Homo sapiens: one gene and its partners. The protein of the gene in region 1 purifies or fractionates together with the protein of each later gene. This does not show direct contact. Each region holds a gene or a part of one and is shown in the gene's direction. Other genes may lie near its edges.

Region 1 (3,042 bases):
AACATAATGGAAATAAAACAGGATATTGACATAATAGCACAAAATGACACTCTTCTAAAACTAAATGGGCACAAGAGAATTTTCCTGGGAAAGTTCACATCAAAAAGAGTGAATGTGGTATATTTCTAAATGATATGGAAAATAGAGACAGATTTGTCCTTTACAGAAATTACTGAGTGTGAATAAAAACTTCAGATCCAAGAAATATATAATGAGAGATATAATTTTTGTTAATAAGACAAAGGTAATATATTGGATACAAAGACACAAATGTATTGTGTGTTCAATTATTTTGTTGTCTTGAGATTTAATATTCTTTCCAAGAGCTTTTAATGAAGCAGAGAGCTAGTACTTCATTTTCACTGGATACATTTTCAGCATCATGAGTTGTCACAGCCTCTGAGCCCCTGATCTGAAGCCAGAAGGGCTGAGTGTATTGTAAACTTATTCTTGCATGTTGCTGTCTGGGAATGGACCACACTACAGCAGGTAGTTCTGGGGGCGATACTGCCGAAAGGCCCGAACACATGTATTTTGGCTGCAATTGAGGAACTTGGGATGCTATTAATTTTGTATTTCAGCAACTGCCCCTTCTCCTATCCCAAAGCACCAATTACTGCCCTCTGCCTCAGCAGTACCAGTATAAGATGACATTCCAAAGACTGGAGGCAACTCAGCCTGAGTTAATTCACAAAATTATGCCATGCTGGGGCTTGAGCTTGAGCTTGGGCTTAGGCTTGGGCTCAGCTTTTGACCCTCAGGCATCTCCTTTCCCTTCCTGTCTTCCTCTCCCTTCTCCTCTGCTGCAGCATGATTTTCTTAATCTTCAGACACTCACTATTTTCATGAACAGTTACCCTCTGTCCCCACAACCAAAGACAACTCATGGCCTCCTTTGGCCCTTGTGTAACATTGCAAACCTGTGGCTTTGCAAAATGTACCCAGGTCACAAGGGGATTTTTTTTTTTTTAGCAATGATATCCCTGTCTGGGTCACTTTTTAAGCTTGTAACCGCCCCCCCAGACTTATAATCTTAAATGTATTTTCCTTTGTTTAAGCTGCTGCTTCCTCTGTTTCATTGGATTGTGCCAGTTATCAGTGGCTCTTGGGTTCAAAGTAATAAAGAATTCCAAAACTGAGATGTTTGCTTTCTCTACCTGTTTCCTGTTCAGATGCCTTCGGTCATTTTGGCTCAGCTTGCTACTGAGAATGGCTGCTTCCCGTATTCAGAATGGAAGTGGGGTGGTCTGGTGGCGACAGGCTAACGTAGAGCTGGCTGCTTTTATGAGAATGCGCCACTTGACCCCATCCTGCACCTTTGTTTATTCCAGGGCACTAATGGTCACTCGCATGCCCGCTGTGCACAGTCCTGTGAGTTAAATGCCCACTACTCTCTGCACTGGTCCCACCTGCTCAATTGACAAAAAAAATCAGGTCCTTGTTGACAGTTCTGTTAAAAGGTTTAATATTCAAATTATACATTAAATAGAATCAAACAGGCAGCAGCAGTTTTATTAAGCATCAAGTCAGTTGGCATGTGGGTGGCGGAGTGCCTGGTAATGGAATAATAGGGTCGGCGATGCCCGCCAAGATTCCAGAGTAAGTCAGGTCGCTAGGTGAGTTGTGACTGATTGCTTTTCCTGCAGCGCACGTGAGCAGTATCAGCCATCTCTCTCCTACCCGCTCCACAGCCTACTGCTGGCTGTCCTGTATGTGAGCTAGCAGCTTTTTAATCTACCTGGAACTAAGGCCAAAAATTATCAGCCCTTTCGTTCTGGAAGGAGAGCTGATCTCATTTGTCACCTGAACAAAAAGCAATACTTAAACTGAATTAAAACTACCCACACGTGAAGCTTCTTGGAATTGTCAGCTATTGTTGGCGTAAGACCTGGTAAATGTAGAGCCAGTGCTGTGCCCTGACCTGGAGATCTAACAGACTTGGCAGAAATGCCTGTGCCCAGACTGAAGAGACCTGGGGCTCAGGAAGAGGCTCGGAACGCCTGCCCTCTATTCTATAGAAACTGCAGGCATAGGCCCTGATTACATTTTTTGCTCTTGGTAAAAGGAGTCAATGATACCTTTGTACTTCTCCAAAACTGTGAGCCGTTTCAGTTTCATCGTGGGACCTAAAAGGGAAATGAGAAGAAATGAGTGAGGCCCAGGCTCTGAGAACTCTGAGAATGTGTGTGGTAAAGACTCACACTCAGTCCTATATATAACTCAGGAATTAAGCCAGATAATCAGGACCGTCAGTAGCCAGCCTCCAAGACAGTGATCGCTCCTGGTATTCATATGGCTTGTGTGTAGTCTCCTGTGTTATACCACTGGTTGTGGCCAGTGGAGTATAGATGAAGGGTTGGTATGTCACCTCTGAGAATAGGTTATAAAAGATCAGTTTCTTTTATACACATAGGAAAGTAGTGTAAGCTACATCTGCCTTTTCCTTGACCTGTACCCAGTTTTGACCCTCAGTCCATTTTCTCTGAAATGGATTTATTTGTTCCATCTCTTGAATGAATAAATTGTTGAAGCAATTAAAAAATAGACTAGGTTTCTGTCTTGGGCTTTCTCTTGGACCATTCTTCCTGGGCAAGCCGGCTGCCATGTTGTGAGGATACACAGCCCATGAGAGGCCCACTGGCCACACACGGATGTTTCTGGCCAGCAGACAGCAAGGAGCTGAGGCCTGCCGACAGCCACGTAAGTGAGCGCGGAGGTGAGCCTCAGCTGCAAGTGACTGCACCCAGCTCACATTGACTGTAATCCCGTGAGACCCAAGCCAGAACCACTCAGCTAAGCTGTTCCTGGATTCTTGACCCATAGAAATGTGGATAATAAATGTTTACTGCTTTAGGCTGCTACATTTTTGGGGTCATTTGTTACACAGCAATGTATTAGATAGCTAGTACACATCATCTCTGCATTTTTGTGAACGTTTATACAACGTTGGACATTATGCTTTGATGGTTGTGATGGGGGTAGGGGAAGCCCAGGTTATGGGGAGCCTCTGCCATGGTCTTTATGAGAGGTCTTCCCCTAATT
Region 2 (3,500 bases), on another chromosome or scaffold:
TTTTGAGATGGAGTTTTGCTCTGTCACCCAGGCTGGAGTGCAATGGCCTGATCTCCACTCACAGCAACCTCCACCTCCCAGGTTCAAGTAATTCTCCTGCCTCAGCCTCCCAAGTAGCTGGGATTACAGGCACCTGCCATCATGCCCGGCTAATTTTTGTATTTTTAGTAGAGATGGGGTTTCACTATGTTGGTCAGGCTGGTCTCAAACTCCTGACCCCAAGTGATCCAGCCACCTTGGCCTCCCAAAGTGCTGGGATTACAGGTGTGAACCACCACTCCTGGCCATGATTGTTATTTTGTATTGTTTTGAAATCAGGAAGTGTGAATCCTCCAACTTGATTCTTATTTTTCATGATTGTTTTGACTGTTCTGGATCCTTGAGTTTCCATGTGAATTTTAAAGTTAGCTCATAATTTCTACCTGGCAGCCAGCTGGGCTTTTGATGGGGATTGCCTTGACTCTAGATCAGTTTGGAGCCATCAGTTTTCTAAGTCTTTAACTTATTCAACTCGTTTAATCTTACCTACCTTGGAGGTAGGTCCTACTTTTATCCTCATTTCACAGAGGAGGAAACTGAGGCCCAGAGAGCTTAAGGACCTTGTCTGAAGTCACGCAGCTGGCCAGTGGCCAAGCCAGACCTTGAGCCGGTGGCTCTGGAGCCCGTGGCTCTGGAGCCCGTGTTTGTAACCACTGTGCTGAGCTGCCTCTTTCCCTGGGCTTGTTGTCTTTGACTCTGCCTTCCCTGAAGGGTGACATTCCCTGGCCATGTCCCTGTGGTAGGGGGCTGCATCTCTGGCAGACCCCACAACGGCTTCACCTCCTTGTGTTCCAGGCAGCCGGTGAAGGTTGTGTACTCCTCCAAGGATCCTGCCCAGCCGAAAGAGAGTTCCAAGGTGGATGCGAATGAGGAGGTGGAGGCTTTGATCGTCAAGTCCCCACAGAAGGAGTGGAACCCCTCTCTGTTTAAGGTGTTATACAAGACCTTTGGGCCCTACTTCCTCATGAGCTTCTTCTTCAAGGCCATCCACGACCTGATGATGTTTTCCGGGCCGCAGATCTTAAAGTAAGACCCCTTCCCTCCCAGGTGGGCTCCATTTTCCCTCCTTGGCTTTGATCTTTCAGTTGCATCAGTCATAACCCTGGGGTCATGCTGTGTCCTGAAGTGGGCTCATAGCCAGATGTCTCCATTTTTACTTTAGCTTTTTTGAAAAAAATAGAGACAGGGTCTTGCTTTGTTGGTCAGGCTGGTCTCGAGCTCCTGACTTCAAGCGATCCTCCTGCCTCGGCCTCCCAAAGTGCTGGGATTGCAGATGTGAGCCATGGTCACTGCCTAGCTTTACTTTATGCTTTACTTAATTACCATATTAGTGAAGACCACATCGTTTGCAAGTAACAGAAACCCACTAGGCTCCCCTAAAACCCAAATGGGGAGGATATGGCATTGTCTTGGGAAACCAAGAGCAAGGAAATGCCAGCAGATCTCATGAAAAAACTGCAACCAGGGTTGGGCGCAGTGGCTCATGCCTATAATCCCAGCACTTTGAGAGGCTGAGGTGGGAAGATCACCTGAGGTCAGGAGGTCAAGACCAGCCTGGCCAGCATGGTAAAACCATCTGCTAAAAATACAAAAATTAGCCGGGCGTGGTGGTGCACGCCTGTAATCCCAGCTACTCAGGAGGCTGAGGCATAAAAATTGCTTGAACCCAGGAGGCAGAGGTTACAGCAAGCTGATTGCATCACTGAACTCAAACCTTGGCGACAGAGCAAGACTTTGTCTCAAAAAAAAAAAAAAAAAAAAAAAGAATAAAAACAACAACAAAAAACTGCAACCAGGAACTGGGGAGTCAGAAAGGAAGTTGCCTCTCTCCTACCTGGCTCTCTGCTGCTCTGTGACTCAGGGGCTACACATCCCTTCTCTTTTCCTCCCTACCTCTTTACCTCGTGTTCCCTATGCAATTCCTTTGGGTGACTTGCTGGTGATGAGATATAGCTAGAGCAATTAGTGCACAACCCCAAGGCAGAGGCCTCTTTTATGAGCAGTTTGGGTCACCTGCACAGCCAGATCACCACTGTGGACTTGTTTTTCCATCTATGAAATTGAAGTGATAGTGTCTAGCTCATCTGGCTCAGGAGAAAGTTGCAGTGCCAACACTGAAGCTCTCTTCCCTGCCCCCACGTGTCACAAGTCATTCCAGGCCCTCTCTTTGCTCCTTTGCAGGTTGCTCATCAAGTTCGTGAATGACACGAAGGCCCCAGACTGGCAGGGCTACTTCTACACCGTGCTGCTGTTTGTCACTGCCTGCCTGCAGACCCTCGTGCTGCACCAGTACTTCCACATCTGCTTCGTCAGTGGCATGAGGATCAAGACCGCTGTCATTGGGGCTGTCTATCGGAAGGTAGGGGACGCTGTGCCATTGGCATGTGGCCCGACTTCCACATCCCCTCCTGCAGCCCTGGGTTACTCTGGGGCCAGCGTGGGGATTTCCAGCCCAGCTTCTGGAGCAGTAGGATGAGGGTAGCTTCCGTGACCTTAGGTGGCAGGGACAGCACGCATCAGGCATTGTACGTTAGGAAAGCTGATTTCAAGGGTGGGCGTGTAGATGTCTTTGTGTATCAGCTGTGAGTAATTGAGTTTCTTAGATGGATCAGTGGCCCTTGTTGTGGGGAAATCCAAGTTTGGATCCTCATTCTGCTGTTAACATTCTGTGTTTCAGCTTGTTGTCACTCTTTTTTTTTCGTTTTTTTGAGACCAGGTCTCACTCTCTCCCCCAGACTGGAGTGCAGTGGCATGATATTGGCTCACTGCAACTTCTGCCTCCTGAGTTCAAGCGATTCTTCTGCCTCAGCCTCCTGAGTAGCGGGGACTACAGGCGCCTGCCACCACGACCGGCTAATTTTTGTATTTTTAGTAGAGACAGGGTTTCGCCATGTTGGCCAGGCTGATCTTGAACTGCTGACCTCAGGTGATCCGCCTGCCTCAGCCTCCCAAAGTGCTGGGATTACAGGCATGAGCCACCGCGCCCAGCCTGTTGTCACTCTTAATTTGAACTGAGCAGGTGGCACATTCCTTGCATGGTAAGAGTATGTAGCAGGCATTTGTGTACATCCAATTTCAAAGGACCTAAATTACCTTCTTGATCCCTATAAATTTTTTTTTTTTTTTGTCTCGAGGTCAAGGAAACTGCTTGGCTCCTAGGTTAGGAAGAGACAGTCTTGCAGGTACTTGATGAACTAGAGGAGTGATTCTCAGGCCTGTCTGTGAATTAGACTCACCTGGGGAGCTTAAACTGATGCAGGCCAGGCACTGTAGCTCATGCCTGTAATCCCAGCAGCTTGGGAGACCAAGGTGGGGGAATCACTGGAGGCTTGGAAGTTCAATACCAGCCTGGTCAATATAGCAAGACCCTGGCTCTGCAGAAAATTTAAAAAAATTAGCCAGGTATGGTGGTGCGTACCTGTAGTCCCGTCTACTCAGGAGATTGAGTTAAAAGAATCACT
Region 3 (3,500 bases), on another chromosome or scaffold:
AAAAATCTGCCATCCCAAATAACAGTGGACAGGCCGTTGTCTCCCTGTGCCTGTCTGACCCCATTTTTCCCACCCCCCGCCTCCCTCCAGGGCATTAACCTGTCTGGGGGCCAGCGGCAGCGGGTCAGTCTGGCTCGAGCTGTTTACAGTGATGCCGATATTTTCTTGCTGGATGACCCACTGTCCGCGGTGGACTCTCATGTGGCCAAGCACATCTTTGACCACGTCATCGGGCCAGAAGGCGTGCTGGCAGGCAAGGTGAGGCCTGCCAGAGGCTAAGGGGGCTAAGGTGAGATCTGAGGCCCGAAGAGAGAGCTGGTGAGAGGCTGAGGGGTTTGGATGAGACTTGGAGGTGTGGGGGGCGCAAGAAGTGGGCATGTGGGTTGGGCATCAGGAGAAACCTGTGGGGACAACTCCCCCACCTGCGAGGTTCTGAGCAGGCTGTGGCGAGCACAGGGTGAGTCACCCATGTGCCTGTCCAAGCTCCCTGGCACATGGGCACACTTCACACTCACTCTGTGGCTCCGTGCCTGTGCCAGGGGTGTGCTGGAGGGTGGTAGGGGTGAGAGCCTGCTGCCTTCTCCCCAGACGCGAGTGCTGGTGACGCACGGCATTAGCTTCCTGCCCCAGACAGACTTCATCATTGTGCTAGCTGATGGACAGGTGTCTGAGATGGGCCCGTACCCAGCCCTGCTGCAGCGCAACGGCTCCTTTGCCAACTTTCTCTGCAACTATGCCCCCGATGAGGACCAAGGGCACCTGGAGGACAGCTGGACCGGTATCTGCCATCCTGGGCCCTCTGATTCCCATGCCTTCCCAGCATTCCCCCTGTCTGGGGTCTCTGAGTGTGTCTAGACTGGCCTAGTGTTGTGCCAGGCAGGTTCTGGGAAACTTGGGCCATCTGTGTGACAGTCACCAGAGGTAAAGTAAACTGGACATAGTCGGGTCCCACTGCCTCCTCCATCCTACTCTACCCTAACTGTGGGAACTCAGATCCTCCGCCCCGGTCTCAGAGCCTGTTTTCTTTCTTTCTTTCTTTCTTTCTTTCTTTCTTTCTTTCTTTCTTTCTTTCTTTCTTTCTTTCTTTCTTTCTTTCTTTCTCTCTCTCTCTCTCTCTCTCTCTCTCTCTCTCTCTCTCTCTCTCTCTCTCTCTCTCTTTCTTTCTTTCTTTCTTTCTTTCTTTCTTTCTTTCTTTTTTTTCTTTTGAGGCAGAGTCTGGCTCTGTCGCCGGGCTGGAGTGCAGTGGTACAATCTCAGCTCACTGCAACCTCTGCCTCCCAGGTTCAAGTGATTCTCCTGCCTCAGGCTCCCGAGTAGCTGGGACTACAGGCATGCGCCACCACGCCTGGCTAATTTTTGTATTTTTAGTACAGACATGGTTTCACCATGTTGGCCAGGATGGTCTCGATCTCTTGACCTCGTGATCTGCCTGCCTCGGCCTCCCAAAGTGCTGGGATTACAGGTGTGAGCCACCTTGCCCGATCTCAGAGCCTGTTTTCCATCTGTTGAAAGCATAGGAGGGCCCAGGCCCAGCTTGTGTGGCAAGGCTGCTTCATGGATAAATAGTTTGGCAAGTATGCAAGTGCTTAGCAAAGCCGCTTATTTATCAACCAAAATTTATTGGACAATCACTATATACAGGCACTGTTCCAGACACTAAGCTATAGCAGTGAGCAAACAAAAAAATTATAGTCCTCATGGAGCTTGTTGACGTCTCTGGGCTCACAACATGCCCCTGGCTCCTTGTTGCCCAGACCCAGCTCCCCAGCCCCCAATTCTGGATTGGCTCACAGACCTTTTCCTGGGCTTTCTTGCCTATGGCTATACATACAGCCAACGTGCCTTGAGCATTTACCAAGTGCTGTGCCCCTCGCTCACACACTGGACACATTTTCTTTTAAGCCTACAGTCATGCAGATTTTTTTTTTTTTTTTTTGGGGACAGTTTCTCACTCTGTTGCCCAGGCTGGAGTGCAACGGTGCGATCTTGGCTCACTGCAACCTTTGCCTCCTGGGTTCAAGCGATTCTCCTGCCTCAGCCTCCCGAGTAGCCAGGATTATAGGTGCCCGCCACCACGCCCGGCTAATTTTTGTATTTTTAGTAGAGACGGGGTTTCACCATGTTGGCCAGGCTGGTCTCGATCTCCTGACCTCGTGAGCTGCCTGCCTCAGCCTCCCAAAGTGCTGGGATTACAGGCGTGAGCCACCATGCCCGACCAAGGACGTGAGTTTTAAGCTCAGCCAGTCTAACTCCAGAGCCCAAGTTCCTAACCCTTGTATTTGAGTCCGTTTCTCCATAATTTGTGAAGAGAGTTTTTCTTGTTGCTTAACCCAAGTCTTTCTTGTTGCCCTTTCAATCCCCCTCATTTTATTTTCATGCTTGTCCATTGAACCCCTTTCATTAGAGTGGGGAATGGGAGATACCAGGGGCTTGCAGGGAGAACTAGCTGAACCCTATCTCCTTCCTCCCACCCTACTGCAGCGTTGGAAGGTGCAGAGGATAAGGAGGCACTGCTGATTGAAGACACACTCAGCAACCACACGGATCTGACAGACAATGATCCAGTCACCTATGTGGTCCAGAAGCAGTTTATGAGGTGAGTTCCTGAGAGCTCCCAGCCCTCCCGGAGGCTGTATCAGGCCTCCCCAGGCCCTGCCAGATGGGGTGCAGGTTTCTCCCTGACACTCCCAGCCTCTGTCCTGGGGGGTGCTTGAGGCCCCCTCCCTGGGCCTGACCAGCTGCCTCCACAGACAGCTGAGTGCCCTGTCCTCAGATGGGGAGGGACAGGGTCGGCCTGTACCCCGGAGGCACCTGGGTCCATCAGAGAAGGTGCAGGTGACAGAGGCGAAGGCAGATGGGGCACTGACCCAGGAGGAGAAAGCAGCCATTGGCACTGTGAGTCGGTGGGGCAAGAGGGGCTGGAGGGGATGGACAGGCAGGCCCCAGCAGCCCCAGGGTTTATGGAGTCCCCTGTCCCTGACTGCCATGGCTGCTCCCTACAGGTGGAGCTCAGTGTGTTCTGGGATTATGCCAAGGCCGTGGGGCTCTGTACCACGCTGGCCATCTGTCTCCTGTATGTGGGTCAAAGTGCGGCTGCCATTGGAGCCAATGTGTGGCTCAGTGCCTGGACAAATGATGCCATGGCAGACAGTAGACAGAACAACACTTCCCTGAGGCTGGGCGTCTATGCTGCTTTAGGAATTCTGCAAGGTGAGCTTGTGGGGGTGTCCAGAAGGGGCTCCAATATCCCTTCTTCTCTGGGCTGCCAGGCCCCCCAAACCGTGCCCTTGCATCCAAGCCTCCCTAACCCACTCTGGTCAACCCGTGTCTCTGATTCTGCCCCTTTGTGCCCGCTCACTAGTCCAGGTGAGCCAGCGCCCTCTGCCTTCTCCAACAGGGTTCTTGGTGATGCTGGCAGCCATGGCCATGGCAGCGGGTGGCATCCAGGCTGCCCGTGTGTTGCACCAGGCACTGCTGCACAACAAGATACGCTCGCCACA
Region 4 (3,500 bases), on another chromosome or scaffold:
TAATTTTGATACTAGGTCCTCAAAATCTGTGTGTGTTTTATACATACAACACATCTTAGTTTGAACTAGCCTCATTTCAGGCACTCTGTAGCCTCATTTGGTGGGTGGCTACTGGCTTGGACAGCATGGGTCTAGGTCTTTGTGGAGCAACCCAAGATGTCTGTTGATAATGGCTATGCTGGGAGGGTCAGGCAGAGGGTGGGTGTTAAGAATATTCAGAATTAGGAGTTTTGGTGTATGTAAAATGTGGTATGTGTAAAATGTGTTTTCTTGGAGTCTAATACAGAATTATTTAAAATCCTTTTAAAATCAAAGGAAAATAAGCTTATTTCCAGTTTCTTAAATATCGTAAAATAATAAGGTAGATCTGCGAAGGGTAATAAGAACATTTGCAGTGTTGACCATAATATACCATATCTTTATAAATCCAGATTGCAGGATTTTAATGAGTGACTTCTACTTCACCTTTAGTAAAATGAAGACCTCTTCTGTGCCTTTTTGCACTCCCGTAGCTTCCTCCTTGCCAAATAATAGCACTTGAGACTATAAGTGCCTGCCTCACTGTCTGGGGCCCAGGAGACCCTAAAAGGTCATGGAGGTAGGGTCTCTGTGGGGATTACCAAGCCCAGTACTGATGGGATTGTGGGCTGCCTGAGACAGTTGACAGTCATGTCCACTGTGTGGCCAAAATTCCACAGACATAGCGTGAGTGTGTTTTGCGCTGTCATTCTTTGTTAACTTCATGTAGGCTGTTTCTTTAGACACCAGAACATCTATATAGCTGATGACAAAAATAGATTTTTCTTACGTAATATTAGCGCATGCCCTAGGTGGATTGTCAGAAGAATCTATGTATGTTGTCATTTGACCCCATGAAATACGTCTGAGGTTTAAAAGTGCAGCTGACAAGCTTTTCAGCCTCAGTCGGTTCTTACTACTTGATGTTATCAAGTCATTCATTCCAAGTGGGATTTCTAAGAGTTTTGGCACATTTCTGAGGAAGGTGGAGCAAAGTGAAGGATCATTCTGCATGCTTCCATAGGTGGTTATTGTTTAACCCCAGAACGTGCAGTGATCCTAGTTGGAATGAGATCGTAATCACAATCTCCCCTCCTTCCATCATTTGTAATGGGTCTTGCTCTGGATGTCAAAGCAACTCTGGTGGTAGGTTCACATTCTTTCTTTGCCCTGTCTTCCCTGGAGGCTGACAGTGTACCCTTGGGTTTTACCCTTGCTAGGTGAAATGTAGGTTCTCTTCCACGTTTGCAAAGGAGATGGCTGAGGGTGGAGGCCAGTGTGAGGGCTTGGGACAGAGATGAACCCTTATCTCAGGGGCCATGATTGGCCTTTCACTACAGGGTGATCAATGAGTAATCTGTTGTTTCTGGAAACTGAAAAGGCTTCTGGAATATAGAAAGCACAAGACACGTGTGTTCCTATTAAGGGTCCGAAGAGATTTAGAGTAAGATGCTATATTGTATGTTGGAGAAACAGCATCAGATTATAGATTTAGCTCCGTTTGGTTCTGTTTTCTAATTGACCTGAACCATGCCAACCTTAAGTTCTTGTAGTAAGTGGTTGGTTGTCCACTGCAGCTGTTTCTGTTTCTAGAATAATTGAGAAGGGGGTAAAACTTAAATTGCAAAATTCTGCAGATAAATAATAAGAGTTTTGTCCAGCTGGCAACACAAATATTCAGCAGATTCTAGGCATGCAGGTGTAAAATATCCTTTTCTTTTTTCTAGCTCTCTCTTTCAAATAAAAGCAATATGGTTTTATTTAGAATCTTTAAGTAAACTGGATACAGGCATGTGTGAGAACTATTGTGGGTTCAGTTCCAGACCATCACAGTAAAGCAAACATCGCAATAAAATTAGTCACATGAAGTTTTTGGTTTCCCAGTACACATAAGGTTAGGTTTATACTATACTGTATTCTATTAGGTGTACAATAGCATTATGTCTAAAAAATGTACATAACCTTAAATACATTTTATTGCTTTAAAAAAAAAAGTGCTAGGGATCATGTCATCCTTCAGTGAGTTGTAATTCTTTTGCTGGTGGAAGGTGTTGTCTTGATATTGACTGTTGACCAGAGTAGTGGTTGCTGAAGGTTGGGGTGGCTGTGGCAATTTTAAAAAATAAAACAGCAATGAAGTTTGCCACATCACTTGATTCTTTCTTTTACAAAAAAATTCTCTTTTGGCGAGGCATGGTGGCTCATGCCTATAATCCCAGCACTTTGGGAGGCAGAGGCAGGCAGATCACTTGAGGTCAGGAGTTCGAGACCAGTCTGGCCAACATGGCAAAACCCCATCTCTACCAAAAATACACACACAAAAATTAGCCAGGCATGATGGTGCACACATGTAGTCCCAGCTACTCAGGAGGCTGAGGCCCGAGAATCACTTGAACCCGGGAGGCTGAGGTTGCAGTGAGCCGAGATCCCACCACTGCACTCCAGCCTGGACGACAGAGTAAGACTCTGTCTCAAAAAAAAAAAAAAAAAAAAATTGGAGTCCTCTCAAACTCTGCTGCTGCTGCTTTACCAACTAAGTTTATGTTAATATAGTGAATCCTTTGTTGTCACTTCAACAATGTTCAACAACATCTTCACCAGAAATAGATTTTTATCTCCAGAAACCACTTTCTTTTCGCGTCCCTAAGAAGCAGTGTCTATTCAGTTCAGGTTTCATCCTGAGATTGCAGCAACTCAGTCAAATCTTCAGGCTTCACTTCTAATTCTAGTTCTCTTGGTATTTCCATCACATTCTGCAGTTACTTCCTCTGCTGAAGTCTTGAACCCCTCAAAGTCATCCATGAGGATTGGAATCAACTCCTTACAAACTCCTGTTAACATTGATATTTTCATCTTTTCCCATGGATCATGAATGTTGTGAATGGCATCTGGAATGCTAAATCCTTTCCTGAAGGTTTTCCATTTACTTTGCCTAGATGCATCAGAGGAATCACTATCTATGGCATCTATAACCTTAGGAAATGCATATCCTAAGTAATAAGACTTGAAAGTTGAAGTTACTCCTCAATCCATGGGCTGCAGAGTAGATGTCGTGTTAGCAGGCCTGAAAATAACACGAATCTCCTTGTACATCTCCATCAGAGCTCTTGGGTGACCAGGTACGTTGTCAGTGGGCAGAAATATTTTGAAAGAAATATTTGTTTTTGAGCAGTAATTCTTAATAGTGGGCTTAAAATATTCGGTAAACCATGCTGTAAACAGATGTGCTGTCATCCAAGCTTTGCTGTTCCATTTACAAAGCCCAGGAAGAGAAGATTCAGCATCATTTTTAAGAGCACTAGGATTTTCAGAATTGTAAATGAGCACTGGCTTCAAGTTAAAGTCACCATCTGCATTAGCCACTAACACAAAAGTCCGCCTGTCCTTTAAAGCTTTCAAGCCAGACACTGACTTCTCCTCTCTAGCTATGAACGTCATGGGTGGCATTTTCTTCCAATAGAAGGCTGTTTTGTCTACATTGA

Evidence for each region. The genes of interacting proteins can lie anywhere in the genome.
Region 2: the proteins of IDH3A (region 1) and ABCC1 fractionate together in Homo sapiens (co-fractionation; one large-scale study listed by BioGRID). This does not show direct contact.
Region 3: the proteins of IDH3A (region 1) and ABCC3 fractionate together in Homo sapiens (co-fractionation; one large-scale study listed by BioGRID). This does not show direct contact.
Region 4: the proteins of IDH3A (region 1) and PUDP fractionate together in Homo sapiens (co-fractionation; one large-scale study listed by BioGRID). This does not show direct contact.

What each region holds. Positions count from the first base shown.
Region 1 is NC_000015.10:78,169,404-78,172,445, forward strand, and holds the end of IDH3A (isocitrate dehydrogenase [NAD] subunit alpha, mitochondrial precursor), read left to right. Parts: 3' UTR 1-2,040; coding exon of another isoform or gene 2,041-2,126; 3' UTR 2,127-2,542; downstream 2,543-3,042. Other genes in the region: long-chain-fatty-acid--CoA ligase ACSBG1, read right to left, coding at 2,079-2,126. UniProt on the Homo sapiens protein: Catalytic subunit of the enzyme which catalyzes the decarboxylation of isocitrate (ICT) into alpha-ketoglutarate.
Region 2 is NC_000016.10:16,043,616-16,047,115, forward strand, and holds part of ABCC1 (multidrug resistance-associated protein 1), read left to right. Parts: intron 1-834; coding exon 835-1,065; intron 1,066-2,220; coding exon 2,221-2,398; intron 2,399-3,500.
Region 3 is NC_000017.11:50,672,881-50,676,380, forward strand, and holds part of ABCC3 (ATP-binding cassette sub-family C member 3), read left to right. Parts: intron 1-90; coding exon 91-258; intron 259-588; coding exon 589-778; intron 779-2,481; coding exon 2,482-2,596; intron 2,597-2,750; coding exon 2,751-2,895; intron 2,896-3,002; coding exon 3,003-3,210; intron 3,211-3,397; coding exon 3,398-3,500. UniProt on the Homo sapiens protein: ATP-dependent transporter of the ATP-binding cassette (ABC) family that binds and hydrolyzes ATP to enable active transport of various substrates including many drugs, toxicants and endogenous compound across cell membranes.
Region 4 is NC_000023.11:7,141,654-7,145,153, reverse strand, and holds part of PUDP (pseudouridine-5'-phosphatase), read left to right. Parts: intron 1-3,500. UniProt on the Homo sapiens protein: Dephosphorylates pseudouridine 5'-phosphate, a potential intermediate in rRNA degradation. Pseudouridine is then excreted intact in urine.